2 linked regions of the Homo sapiens genome follow. The protein of the gene in region 2 interacts with the protein of the main gene of each other region in a pairwise test. Each region holds a gene or a part of one and is shown on either strand. Other genes may lie near its edges.

The links.
Region 1: the proteins of CARTPT (region 2) and CEACAM1 interact in binary tests that used the Homo sapiens proteins (3 or more experiments, as listed by UniProt).

What each region holds. Positions count from the first base shown.
Region 1 is NC_000019.10:42,514,982-42,518,481, forward strand, and holds part of CEACAM1 (cell adhesion molecule CEACAM1 isoform 1 precursor), read right to left. Parts: intron 123-3,500; coding exon of another isoform or gene 30-122; intron 1-29.
Region 2 is NC_000005.10:71,717,943-71,721,545, reverse strand, and holds CARTPT (cocaine- and amphetamine-regulated transcript protein preproprotein), read right to left. Parts: upstream 2,272-3,603; 5' UTR 2,253-2,271; coding exon 2,094-2,252; intron 1,667-2,093; coding exon 1,583-1,666; intron 1,039-1,582; coding exon 931-1,038; 3' UTR 501-930; downstream 1-500. UniProt on the Homo sapiens protein: Satiety factor closely associated with the actions of leptin and neuropeptide Y; this anorectic peptide inhibits both normal and starvation-induced feeding and completely blocks the feeding response induced by neuropeptide Y and regulated by leptin in the hypothalamus.

The sequences.
Region 1 (3,500 bases), on a different chromosome or scaffold from region 2:
ACTATGGGGCCAGGCGTGGTGGCTCACACCTGTAATCTCAGCACTTTGGGAAACAGATGGGAGGATTGCTTGAGCCCAGGAGTTCGAGTCCAGCCTGGGTAACATGGTGAGATTCTGTCTCTCTGAAAACAAAAATAAAAATAAATTAGCCAGATGTGGTAGTATGTACTACTTAGGAGGCTAAGGTGAGGGAATTGCTTGAGCCCAGGAGGTTGAGGCTGCAGTGAGCTGTGTTTGCACCACTGCACTCCAGTCTGGGTGACAGAGTGACACCCTGTCTCAAAAACAAAACAAAAACCCCAAACCCGTGCAATACTATGGAGCAGGCATTCACAGTGCAATTTTCGGTTGAGGAATCCGAGGCTCAGAGTAGTTAAGAATCTTGTGCAAGAAAGAAATTTATAACTGTAGGCCAGGTACAGTGGTGTATGACTGTAATCCCAGCAATTTGGGAGGCTGAGGCAGGTGTATCACTTGAGCTCAGGAATTTGAGACCAGCTGGGCAAGATGGTGAAACCCTGTCTCTACAAAAAATTACAAAAATTAGCCGGAGGTGGTAGTGCTTGTCTGTAGTTTCAGCTACCCAGGAGGCTGAAGCAGGAGGATTGCTTGAACCCGGGAAGTTGAGGCTGTGGTGAGCCATGATCAGCCTCGGTGACAGAGTGAGAACCTGTCTCAAACCGAAAAAAAAAAGTTGTTCTTCAAAAAAGATCACTATAATTGACAACTGTTAATTAGATTGACTAAGAAAGAAAGAAGATTCAAATTACTAAAGTCAGAAATGAAAGTAAAACATTACTACTAATTCTGCAGAAATAATAAGGATTATAAGAGTACTATGAGTAATTGAATGCCAACAAATTGGATAACCTGGATGAAATGAACAAATTCCTAGAAACACAAAACCTGCCATGATAGAATCATGAATAAATAGAAAATCTGAATAGACCTATAACCAGTAATGAAAATGAGTCGATAAAAGCATTTGACAAAATTCAACATTCTTTCATGCTAAAAAACACTGAAACTAGGAATAGAAGGAAATTCTCAACATAATAAATGCTACATGTGAAAACCCCCAGCTACCATCATAGTCAATGGTGAAAGATTGAAAACTTTTCCTTTAAGATCAAGAACAAGACAAGGATGCCTGCTTTTGCCATTTCTATTCAATGTAGTATTGGAAGACCTAGACAGAACAATTAGGCAAGAAAAAAAAAGCATCTAGATTGGAAAGAAGTAAAATTATACCTGTTTGCAGAATACACTAACTTATATATAGAAAACCCTAGAGATTCCACAAAAAAACTGTTAGAATAATAAATTTAGCAAAGTGGCAGGATACAAAATCCACATGCAAAAATCAGTTGTATTTTTGTATACTAATAACAATTCAAAGGAAAATTAAGAAAAAAATTCTATTTATAAGAGCTTTAAAAATACTTAGAAATAAACTTAACCAAAGAGGTGAAAGATTTGTACCCTGAAAATACAAAACATTGCCAAAAGAAATTAAATAAGACATAAATTGAAAAGACACCCCATTTTCATGGATTAGAAGACTTAATATTGTTAAGATGACAGTACTACCCAAAGTGATCTACAGATTCAGTGCAATCTCTATCAAAATTCCAGTAATATTTTTTGCAGAAATAGAAAAATTCATTCTAAAATTTATATAGACTCTGAAGGGACCATGGATAGCCAAAGCAATCTTGAAAAAGAACAAAGTTGAAGGGCTCACACTTCCTGGTTTCAAAATTTTTTACAAAGCTATGGTAATCATCACACCTGTAATCTTAGCACTTTGGGAGGTGGAGGCGGGTGGATTGCTTGAGCTCAGGAGTTTGAGACCAGCCTTGGCAACATGGTGAAACGCCATCTCTACAAAGAAAAGCAAAAAAACAAAACAAAACAAAAAAACCCAAACAACAACAATAAAACAAACAAACAAAATCCAAAAGCTACAGTAATCAAAACAGTATGGTACTGGCAAAAAGAAATAGAAACCAGTGGAATAAAATATAGAGCCCAGAAAGAAATGTTTGCATACATAGCCAAATGTTTTTTGACAAGGGTGCCAAGATCATTCAGTGGGGAAAGGATAGTCTTTTCAACAAATGGCATTGAAGAAACTGGATATCCATGCAAAAGAATGAAATTGAACCTTTATGTAACACCATATATAAAAATTAATTCAAAATGCATAAAAGACCTAAATGTAAGAGCTAAAACTATAAAGCTCTTGGAAGATAGAGTGAAAACTTTGGAACATTGAATTTGGCAATGATTTCTTGGCTATGACACTAAAAGCATAGGCAACGAAAGAAGAAGTAGAGAAATTGGACTTAATGAAAATTAAAAGCTTTTGTGTATCAAAGCACATTATCACAAAAGTGAAAAGACTTCTTATAGAATGGGAGAAAATATTTGAGAATCATATATCTGATAAGGGATTAATATCCAAAATATATAAAGAACTACTGCAACTCAACCAAAAATCCCCAAACAACCTAATTAAAACATGGGCAAAGGACTTGAATAAACATTTCTCCAAAGAAGATAAATGGCAAATAAGCACATGAAAAGATGCTAAATATTGCTAATCATTAGGGAAGTGCAAATCAAAACTCCAATGATATACCACCTTATAACCATTAGGATGGCCATTATAAAAAACAAAACAAAACCAGAAAGCAACAAATGTTTTTGAAGATGTAGAGAAATTGGAACTCTAGTGCATTGCTGGTGGGAATGTGAAATGGTATAGCCACTGTGGAAAATGGTATGATGGTTCTTCAAAATTAAACAGGATTACCATTTGATCCAGCAATTCCACTTCTGAGTATCTATTTAAAAGAACTGAAAGCAGGGATTTGAACAGATATTTGTATACCCATGTTTGTAATAGCATTATTCATAATAGCCAAAAGGTGGAAGCAACCTAACTGTCCATAGATGGATGAGTGGATAAGCAAAATGTGATGTATCTATCTACACAGCATAATATTATTCAGTCTCCAAAAGGAATGAAATTCTGATACATTCTACAACATAGATGGAGCTTGAAGACATTGTGCTAAATGAAGTAAGCCAGACACAAAAGGACAAATATTGCATGCTTCCATCTGTATGAGAGGTACTTAGAATAGTTAAATACGGGGTGGGCAGAGTGGCTCATTCCTGTAATCCCAGCACTTTGGGAGGCCGAGGCTGAGACCAGGAGATTGAGACCAGCCTGGGCAACACAGTGAAACCCCAACTCTACAAAAAAACTTAAAAACTTAGCCAGGCATGGTGGTGCAACCTGTAGTCCCAGCTACTCTGGAGGCTGAGGTGGCAGGATTGCTTGAACCCAGGGGATTGAGGCGGGAGTGAGCTTTGATCACACCACAGCACTCCAGCCTGGGTGACAGAGTGAGACCCTGTCTCAAAACAACAAAACAAACAAAAAAACCCAACCAACCAAAAAAAACCAACTAAGTATATGTATATTTGAT
Region 2 (3,603 bases):
TAGACAAATAACAACCCTAAACAGCCCATATCTTTAAATCAATGTATATTTTCTAATAAGGGAGTTGTCAAAACAAAATTTCTAATTTTTCAAATTGCTTTTAATGTGACTAAAACATGAAACTGTTTATAGTTTATTGGTCTCACTGTTTAAAGTAAAGGGTCTGGCTAAAGGTTTTAATAAACAAAATTATATAACCTCAACTCCAACCATCTCCATCTCATTCATCTCTCTCTTTCTCTCTCTCTCTCTCACACACACACACACACACACATACACACACACATACACACACCACATCGCTGCAATCAAAGAAAAATAGAGTATACTAAAACTGGCTTGGCAAACTTCTAATTAACGATCAAAACTCCTTGGAGCTAAGGTGCCATTTTCCCAATAGGCTGCTATTTTTAAAATATTTTTCTTTGAAAACAACAGCATGATTAATCTCACCATTTCCACTTAAATTACTTATATGAAAACAGCAGTGCACTATGGGCAATTATTAAAAACACTTTATTATGTATAATTTGTACATGCTTCAATTTGTGTCACTTAGGGTGATTTATTTTCCAGGTTGTAATGACATCTACCGAGATTAGCTAGATCTAATTTTCATTCTGCCATGCCACATACAAAAATACAATTTTCAAACAAAGCTTCCCTTCTTTACACAAAGGTACACAAGAGTTTGTCAGACAAATAAAATAAGAATACTTCACACACGTATCAACACCATACAAGGCATTATTCTTCACACAGTAACATCTAATGTGTTCTTTTATTTTTGAAACAGCAGGAAAAGAGCCCTTTCCCTTCAGAGGAAAATAAAAACTTTATCTGTTGCTTAAGCCAAACTCCAGGGAGGAAGGTGTGGTCCTCTGGGGAAAGTAGAGGGATGGGGATGTATGGAGGAGAATGGACGCCCCTTCATAAGCACTTCAGGAGGAAGGAATTGCAGGAGGTTCCTCGGGGACAGTCACACAGCTTCCCGATCCTTGCCCCTTTCCTCACTGCACACTGCTCACCGGCGTCACACTGAAACAACAAAATGTGTGGTCATCGAGTATGAACAAACCCAGGTTCCCAACAGGCAAGTCTCACAGTCAACGCAATTTCTGTCTCTTGAAAGGGGCAATTGGACCCCATCACCATCACAAGAGGTCTACGTACAGTCAGATCTGAAACAGGGAGCCTTGTGCTTATAACCTCAGTGAGAGTACATTTTTTAAAGAAACTTACATTATTAGTTTTATCCTAGTTTCTTCCACCTTTAAGTGGCGAGGGTTGGGGGGCGTGGGAAGGGGAGCATCACATTTCCTGGCTCCTTTTCTTGCCCTCTCAGAGGGGAAAAAAATCAGACCTTTTTCCTGAGCAACAAACAATAGACTTACACTTTCTTACAACCCCTGTTCCTGCTTTCCCATTTCCTCACCCGGGAAGGAAGAAGGAGCCCACAGAATCCTGCAAGCCCATTACCTAAGTTATTTAGCCACATCCTACGGAGAAGACTGTGTGTACGATTCAAGGCGGTGTACTTTCTCTTGGAAAAACACGGGAAGGGAGTGACCACAAACCTTACCATGGGGACTTGGCCATACTTCTTCTCATAGATGGGAACACGTTTACTCTTGAGCTTCTTCAAGACTTCTTGCAGCGCTTCGATCTGCAACACACCGCTTCGGAGCCTGAAGTTGCCGCCTTGGCTGCGAGCCCAGCCCAGGTGCGCACTTCCAGCCCTAGTTATAAGGAGCCCCGGACCCACACGCACTCTGCGGTGGGACTCCGCGGACACAGGGAATGGTCGAGGGGTGGAAACTTAGCGGACGCTGTCCCAGGTACTGACCGCGGGTCTCTGAGCCGCTGGGGTCCCTGTTGCTCAGAGGGGCCGGGATGAGGGATTCGCTCAACAGACTGCCAGGAGCCCGTGAGCTCGAGACGCTCTTCGGATGGCAGTGGGTGCCTGGGCGTTGCGCTCAGCTCCCCGCGCCCTGACTCTGGGAATAGGAGTGGGGGTGGGGGGAGGAGGGAGGCGTGCAAGAGAAGAGACAAGGCGACAGCTCAAGGGGGTCGAGAGCGAGGGGAATACCGACCAGCTCCTTCTCGTGGGAGGCATCATCCACGGCAGAGTAGATGTCCAGGGCTCGGGGCTGGAGCTCGGCGTCCTCCTGGGCACGGGTACCCAACAGAGGTAGCATCAGCAGCAGGGCGGCGCCCAGGAGGGGCAGCAGCCTCACGCGGGAGCTCTCCATCGTTCTGAAACTCGTCGTTGCTGGGGCACCACGCGCTCCCACCTTTTATAGTGAGCCCGAGCCCCCGTGCAGGAAAGAGGGAGGAGGCGAAGAAGGAAGGGGGTGTGGAGGAGGGCCCGGGTCAACCGTCTGTAGGCAGCGCTCCGCCGGCGCTTGACGTCAATGCCCGCCGGGTTCCAGGCGCCTGGGAACGAGGCTCTGCGCACAGATGGGCTAGAGCGCAGAGAACAGGACCCTGCGCCCCCAAAGGCTGTCAGTCTCACGGCAAGGGATGCTCCCCGAGGGGCCTGAGCTGAAGCCGAGGGGCTAGAGGTGAGGGACGGGAAGCGGGAGGGGCCTAGGAAATGGAAAATGCCTTCGGGTCAATGCACAGGCAGGAGAGTCGTTTCCCAACACCTAGCAGTGGTGACAGCTGCAACATCCACCTCGCCAGCCCTGCCTTGCCTCGCACCCCAACCCCAAGTGTGGCGGTGAGAAGGGGGTGTTGCCTCCAGACAGCCACATTTGCTGAGCACCTTACTCTGTGGGGTAGGGGAAGCAAACATACTATACAAAAGAAAGAGAAATAGTGGCCCTCCACGTGATGGGTTCTATGATGGAATCTGTGTGACAATAGTTAAAAGAAGAGAGGGAAAACAGACAAACCCGGATTCAGCAGTGGTGTTGGAAGTGCAGAGAGCCAGGCTCTGGTTCCCATCCTGGCTACACCACGTAAAAGTTGTATGACTTTGAACAAAATGAAGAACCTCTCCAAGCCTCAGCTTTCTCTTTTGTAGATCTAGGATTAAAAAGATATACCTCACAAAGTCATCAGTAGGATGAAATGAGAGATTAAGTATGTCAAACTCCTGGTTCTTAGCTAAGCTTCCCTGTCCCTCCTTTTTGAACTTTGAGGCTGCCCAGGCAAATTTAACCATCCCCAGAACCTCCCCCCACCCACCACCAACCCTTGGTATCCAAGAAGCCTGTCTAGAAAGAGAGTAAAAGAGTGAAAAGAAAGACAGCTCCATGATTATGAAAATATCTCCAGAGATCAGAAGTCAATGGTGAACCAGCTCCCCAACAACTTGGGAGAACAATGTGGCTTTTTTAAAAGTTGAGATCCTTACAGCCTGAATGCACAGGAAAATTCCTGTAGGAAAAGCAATGCTTTCCCGCTTAGACCTGCTTGCTCACCTGGCTTCCTTCACCACACCATCTTTCCCTCAACTGTTCCTAAATTCATCCACTCTTCTCCATCCCCATTACTACAACCCAGTCCTAGACAGCTGCCCCAGTCAACTTAATGTCTACCACTTAATCCCCACCCTATCTTCTCTTGCCTTCCTCTACTCCATAGTTCACCACCAAC